Homo sapiens: one gene and its partner. The gene in region 1 interacts genetically with each later gene. Each region holds a gene or a part of one and is shown on either strand. Other genes may lie near its edges.

What was found.
Region 2: changes in C8orf76 (region 1) and STK11 together harm fitness more than expected from each alone (negative genetic interaction), as found in Homo sapiens cells (one large-scale study listed by BioGRID).

The regions. Positions count from the first base shown.
Region 1 is NC_000008.11:123,239,062-123,243,167, reverse strand, and holds the start of C8orf76 (uncharacterized protein C8orf76), read left to right. Parts: upstream 1-1,790; 5' UTR 1,791-1,821; coding exon 1,822-1,938; intron 1,939-4,023; coding exon 4,024-4,106. Other genes in the region: ZHX1-C8orf76 (zinc fingers and homeoboxes protein 1), read left to right, coding at 4,024-4,106.
Region 2 is NC_000019.10:1,225,855-1,228,931, forward strand, and holds the end of STK11 (serine/threonine-protein kinase STK11), read left to right. Parts: intron 1-599; coding exon 600-793; 3' UTR 794-809; intron 810-1,738; 3' UTR 1,739-2,577; downstream 2,578-3,077. UniProt on the Homo sapiens protein: Tumor suppressor serine/threonine-protein kinase that controls the activity of AMP-activated protein kinase (AMPK) family members, thereby playing a role in various processes such as cell metabolism, cell polarity, apoptosis and DNA damage response.

The DNA of each region.
Region 1 (4,106 bases):
ATAAATGAGCTGGTTCTAGATTTTGGCAATAATTAGCAGAGAGATGGATTCTGAAACCTGGGGGAGTGGATTAGGTGAGTTTGTGGAGGAAAAAGTTGGGTTGAAGAAAGAACGCTGAACCTGGTCAACATGAAAGAACCCCTCTCTACTGAAAATACAAAAAAGTAGCAGTGTGTGGTGGCCCGCGGGAGGCTGAGGTGGGAGGATGGCTTGAGCCAAGGAGGTTGAGGACGCAGTGAGCCGAAATTGCGCCTCTGCACCCCAGCCTGGGCGACAGAGCGAGACCCTGTCTCAGAAATAAATAAACAGATAAAATTTTAAAAAAGAAACCTGGAAGACAGATAAATGGTGGAAGAGAAACTGGTGAGAGTGAAGAGGAACAGGAAAAAAATCGGGGAAAACCTTTATGTTTATTTCCTACTGTGTAATATGGCACAATATTGTGCTGTACAGTATTGGCCAGCATTTTGTCAACAATCTTTACTTTCTAGAGTCAAGAAATATCTTAAAAGTATAAGAATTGTAGTAAATGTTAGTCTTAGAATTTTGAGATTTGGTGTTCTCCAGGTCGAATGAATGCTCCCTGATCTAGCCTCCCACGGTATATTTCTGTGTCTTTTCTTTCATAAATGCGTGAATGACTCCGGTCTTTGTTATTGGTGGTAGTGTCTCTTGTCCGGAAGCACGGAGAGTACGCATTCATTTCTGTATTTCCCAAGTTTCAGCCACATAATGACCGAAACTTAACAAGTTACTTAACCTCTCCAAACTCCAATATCTTCAAAATAGGATTTGCAAAATGGGAATCACTTTGGCTTTCATAAGGTGGTTGTTAGCCGAAAAGAAAAAATGTGCTTAACACAGTGACGGGAATGCACAGTGGTTGACAATTGGTACTTGCACCGGGCTTAGTGGCTCACGCCTATAATCCCAGCACTTTGGGAGAACGAGGTGGGCGGATCGCTTGAGATCAGGTTCGAGACCAGCCTGGGCAACGTAGGGAAACCCAGTCTCCACAAAAAATACACAAGTTAGACGGTCATGGTGGCGCGCGCCTGTAGCCCCAGCTACTTGGGGGACTGAGGCGGGATGATAGGTTGAGTCTGGGAGTTCGAGGCTGCAGTGAGCCATGATCTCACCACTGCACTCCAACCTGGGCGACAGAGCGAGACCCTGTCTCGAAATTATTTTATTTATTTTATTTTATTTTATTTTTTATTTTGAGACGAAGTTTCACTCTTGTTGCCTAGGCTGGAGTGCAATGATGCGATCTTGGCTCACCGCAACCTCCGCCTCCCGGGTTCAAGCGATTCTCCTGCCTCAGCCTACCGAGTAGCTGGGATTACAGGCGCGCGCCACTACGGCCGGCTAATTTTTGTATTTTCAGTACAGACCTGGTTACTCAATGTTGGTCAGGCTGGTCTCGAACTCCCGACCTCAAGTGATCCGCCCACCTTGGCCTCCCAAAGTGCTGGGATTACAGGCTTGAGCCACCGCGCCCGGCCTCTTATTTTAATTTTTAAAAAGGTACCTGCGAGTTTTAAACAGCTACTCTGGGGCCAGCGTGCTTTTTGATGCGTGCAGGTAAGGATCATTCTGTCCATCTCCTGACACAGAGAAGTCAAAACCTCCGTCCTGGGGTTCGGTCAGTTAGTGGGTCAGATAATCATCTCAGCTCAACCACTACTCCCAACCAGCAGCGGCCACGTCCCCGCGTCGCCCTCAAAGACTACAAGTCCCAGCGTGCCGCGCTCTGGGCCGTGGAAGCCCCGCCTTTTCCGGCGGGCCCCGCTTCCTCGTTGCCCCCGCCGCGGGCGCGAGATGGATTCCGGGTGCTGGTTGTTCGGCGGCGAGTTCGAGGACTCGGTGTTCGAGGAGAGGCCGGAGCGGCGGTCAGGACCGCCCGCGTCCTACTGCGCCAAGCTCTGCGAGCCGCAGGTGAGAAGCTGGGGCCTCTTCGCCTTATCCCGGGCCCCAGGCCTCGCCCTCCGCGGGGCCCCGGCCCCGGCCTCGGCCCCTCCGTCCGCGCGAACGCAAACCCTGGCAGGCTCCAGCGCCCGCCGCGTCCCCCGCCGTCCCTCCTCCTCCACGGGGAAGCGGCTTTCCCAGGCCCCATTCCGGGTCCATGGGCGAGAATCCCCGCGTTGTAAGCGGCTTGACTCCCACTTGGCATTTGGCCGGCCTGGCTGCTGCCGGCTGGTCTCAACGCCCCTGCCCTGCAATCTCCGGTACCTCCCGTTTGTCTTCACTGCTCTTACAGCTGGGCAGTCAGGCCTCCCAAAACGGTGACCTCCGGCAAACCCACTCTCCCCTCCCTCTTCGGCGAGCTCCCCCTGCCCGTACCAACCCCGCGCTGATGGTTAAAGTCCTTCAGTTATATCCGTTTTTCAAGGCACATCTTAAATGTCATCTCCTCTAGGAAGTCTTTTCTGATTTCGTCTTCCAGCCAAATATTTTTGTCTTTGGCCCCCTTCCCTCTATTTAGCTTCTACTTAAAGCACTTGTCAGTATTCCCACAAAGTCCTGAGACCCGGAGTGCTAAATGATCGCACCAGCATGGGTTCTTGATGCCCTTGGCAGTGCCTAACAGTTTTTATTAATAATAGTGACTCCGCGAATATTTTTGAATTAGTAGAGTATTACTTCCTATTCTTTCATGAGTGTAAATAGTTCATCAGTCAAAACTAATATTTATGGAAAATACGGAAGTGTTCCGGGCACTGTGGTGGGTTCCTTCGCATATACTGTCTCATTCGTTCCTCACAATTGTACTGACAAGATGCCAGGCACTCGATAATTACTGAATTGTGTTTTTGGTTATTTCAGTTGCATTTTCTCCTTATCACATACGATCTTTCAAAGTTACCTTCAGCCCTGGATCATGTAGACTCAAAACAGGGATTGGGCTTGGAAATCATGTGGCAGAACATTAAAAAAACTCTGGTTATGAGATAGGACTCTTGAATTCCAGTGTTGGCTTTAACCACTTGCCTTGAAGGTGTCAGCTCCTTATTTGTCCCTTCAGAAAAATAATACATGCTGGCTCACAGAGTTATCGTGGGAGTGAAATGAGATAATGTATATGAAAATACTTTGTCAGATCTGATGTGCTGTACAGGTGCATAGAATTTAATATAAATTCTAAAATGAAGTGATTTTTTTCTTTTCTTTTTTTTTTTTTTGAGGTGGAGTTTGTTGCCCATGCTGGAGTGCAGTGGCGCGATCTCGGGTCACCCCAACCTCCACCTCCCGGGTTAAAGCGATTCTCCTGCCTCAGCCTCCCAGCTAGCTGGGATTACAGACGTGTGCCACCATGCCGGCCTAATTTTGTATTTTTAGTAGAGACAGGGTTTCTCTACTGTTGTTAGCCAGGCTGGTCTCAAACTCCTAACCTCAAGTGATCTGCCCGCCTCGGCCTCCCAAATTGCTGGGATTACAGGTGTAAGCCACTGCCTTTCCCTACGTTATTTATTCAATAGTCAAGCAATCTCAGTCTCACTTTCCTTTTTATCCATAGGATTTAAATCAGTAGAAAAGCAAATAAAGTATCCTAGATGGGCATTTCCTCAGACTTCTCTCCTACAGGTTTTTGGTATTTGGTTGCATTGGAGCCTCCTTCTAGCCTTAATTTCTGTCTCCTTTGCTGAAATTCTAGTTTTTTGCCATTATGACATTTTCATAATAGCACCATATCTATAATTCTTCTTTCCTATGTCCTTTCAGTAAAGAATTGTCAATCCCTATTCCAGTCACACTAAAGTTTATCTACAAGAAAGCATGTCTCATTTTAAAGAACCAATGTGGGCTGGGTGCGGTGGCTCACACCTGTAATCCCAGCACTTTGGGAGGCCAAGGTGGGCAGAGGCAGGATCACTTGTGCTCAGGAGTTCAAGACTAACCTGGCCAGACTCTTGAAGAAGTCTTTTTTTGACGTTTAATCAATTATATTATGGGAAATTGCTTCTGAATATGAGGTGGAAAAGCATAGCTCACTCTGTAATAGGCTATTTTCATGATTTCAAGTGGTTTTATGAAGAAACAGAAAGCAGTGATGATGTTGAAGTGCTGACTCTCAAGAAATTCAAAGGAGACCTGGCCTACAGACG
Region 2 (3,077 bases), on another chromosome or scaffold:
ACAGTGTCCACCTGGGCAGGGTGGGCAGCCCCAGGCCTGTGGGTTTCACCAGGGTGCTGGTGATGGTTGGTGGCTAGCAGGGACTGGGGGCAGCTGGGGGCCCTGGCAGGCTGAGCTCTGCTCCCCGCGTGGTTCTGTGCTGGCATTTCGCGTGCCTGGCCTGAGCCTGGCCCGAGCCTGGCCCTCCTGTGTCCTCACAGATGAGCATGTGGCGGCTCCTGGGCCTCTAGAACCAACCATGGGCCAGGGTGCCCCAGGGGAGCACGGGAGGGTCCTGCCTTGTCAGCTTGCCTCCTACTCGTGAGGTTCCTGCAGTCAGTACCTGGGTGGGGTCCCACCTGCGGCCATGGCAGGTGCAACAGACGTGGTGGAGGGGACACTCCTGCCCAGGCCATCTGCGGGAGGCTCAGCCCCGGGGGGTGCCTCCCAGAGCTGCTGGGGGGCAGCATTTCAGGCTGGATACACCTGGGCCTGACCCGGGGGCGGGCATGGCCTGGGCAGCAGCTGTAAGTGCGTCCCCGTGGTGGGGGCCAGCCAGGTCCCTGTGGCTCTGGGGTTGCGCCCCTCAGCTCAGGCCACACTTGCCGTCTCCCTCCCAGGACAGGTCCCAGAAGAGGAGGCCAGTCACAATGGACAGCGCCGGGGCCTCCCCAAGGCCGTGTGTATGAACGGCACAGAGGCGGCGCAGCTGAGCACCAAATCCAGGGCGGAGGGCCGGGCCCCCAACCCTGCCCGCAAGGCCTGCTCCGCCAGCAGCAAGATCCGCCGGCTGTCGGCCTGCAAGCAGCAGTGAGGCTGGCCGCCTGCAGGTGGGGCGCGGCGGGGCCCGGGTGGGGCATGTGGGGACAACGCCTGGATGCCACAGCCAGCCGTGAGCATAGCCCGCGCTAGTCAGTCATGGTGACCGTCACGTGGCTGCGCGTGGTTGCCATGTGGCCTTTGGGTGGCTTGGCCACGTAGCGATCCCCGTGGAGGGTGCCGTCTCGGGGCCTGGTGTCTGGCCAGCGTGCTGGTCATGGAGGCCTACGTGTGGCGGGGCTCTGGGGGGGCGTGCCGTCCTCACAGCCACCTCTCAGAGTGGGTGCATTCCGAGGACCCTGCCCTGGGCCTGGCGCCCCCTCCCCATGCCCGCGCCGCTTCCAGGAAAGGCTTATGCTGGGCTCAGCCCAGAGGCTTTTGAGCACCAGTGGGTGGTGGGTGGTGGGGAGGGGCCGCGGCCTCCATGGCTCTGCCGGGGTGCCGCAGGCTCTGAGCCAGCTGCCAAGTATGGCTGAGGCTGAGTCGTGCCGGACGCTGCCCTGTCTCTCCCTGTGTGCCTGCCTCCTCTCCCAGCCCCAGCCCCAGCCCCGGGTGGGAGACGGAGTCCCAGAGGTGTCAGAGACCCTTAAGTCACCTGCCGAGGATGCGGGGTGGATGGGGGCCCGAGGCTGAAGCCCCTGCCTTGCCACAGCCCCTCTCCCAGGTTTTGGGGGCCACCGCCTGAGTTACATGTCTGTCCCCCAAATGGGTGCCCACAGCCCATCCACCAGCGTCAGAGCCCGCCAGGCCCCACTGCAAAAGGCCACACAATGTACCCCGGGAGTGACTCAAGGGTGGCCTTCCCTGGCCTCCCCTGCTGCCCCCCAGGAGTCCGGTAGCCCCATGACTGTACCTCAGCTTCTCCATCCTCCCAGGGGCCCGCGGGAGGCGGAGAACCGGTGCCCAGGCTGACCTCTTCCGTCTTCCTTCCACCCTGCAGCCCGTGTCCAGGAGCCCCGCCAGGTGCCCGCGCCAGGCCCTCAGTCTTCCTGCCGGTTCCGCCCGCCCTCCCGGAGAGGTGGCCGCCATGCTTCTGTGCCGACCACGCCCCAGGACCTCCGGAGCGCCCTGCAGGGCCGGGCAGGGGGACAGCAGGGACCGGGCGCAGCCCTCCCCCCTCGGCCGCCCGGCAGTGCACGCGGCTTGTTGACTTCGCAGCCCCGGGCGGAGCCTTCCCGGGCGGGCGTGGGAGGAGGGAGGCGGCCTCCATGCACTTTATGTGGAGACTACTGGCCCCGCCCGTGGCCTCGTGCTCCGCAGGGCGCCCAGCGCCGTCCGGCGGCCCCGCCGCAGACCAGCTGGCGGGTGTGGAGACCAGGCTCCTGACCCCGCCATGCATGCAGCGCCACCTGGAAGCCGCGCGGCCGCTTTGGTTTTTTGTTTGGTTGGTTCCATTTTCTTTTTTTCTTTTTTTTTTTAAGAAAAAATAAAAGGTGGATTTGAGCTGTGGCTGTGAGGGGTGTTTGGGAGCTGCTGGGTGGCAGGGGGGCTGTGGGGTCGGGCTCACGTCGCGGCCGCCTTTGCGCTCTCGGGTCACCCTGCTTTGGCGGCCCGGCCGGAGGGCAGGACCCTCACCTCTCCCCCAAGGCCACTGCGCTCTTGGGACCCCAGAGAAAACCCGGAGCAAGCAGGAGTGTGCGGTCAATATTTATATCATCCAGAAAAGAAAAACACGAGAAACGCCATCGCGGGATGGTGCAGACGCGGCGGGGACTCGGAGGGTGCCGTGCGGGCGAGGCCGCCCAAATTTGGCAATAAATAAAGCTTGGGAAGCTTGGACCTGGCCGTCTGGGTTTTGTTCGCGTCTCAACGTGGATGGGGCGGCAGCGGGGCGGGCGCCGTTGACATGCGGAGGGCAGTGGGGACTCGGGGCGCGGGAGGGCCGGGGCCGGCTCCCTCAGGGCCGGCGGCAGCAGCGGTGGCGGCGCGGTTATTGCTCGGAGGCGGCGCGGGCTGCCGCCAGCACACGCCGCAGTGAGGTAAACGGTCTCGGAGGTCGGCAGTCACGGTGTTGAGCCGCCTCCCGGCCCAGGGCGGCGAACTCGTCTGCGACCGTTAGCGCCCCGCGGCCCCCGCCCGGGCGAGCTCGCGCACGCGCCCGGCACGCGGCGGCTCCATCGGGCCCAGTGGGCTGCGCGACCCTCGGGTGGCGGGCCCTGCGACTAAGCGGCCGCCCCGTCCGGGACTGAGGGCGAGTGATCGTTGTCCTCAGGAGCCCGAAGCTGAGAGCCGTTCACGCCCCTTCCTTCCCGCCCAGCCGGGGTCTCCGCGGCCCGCGC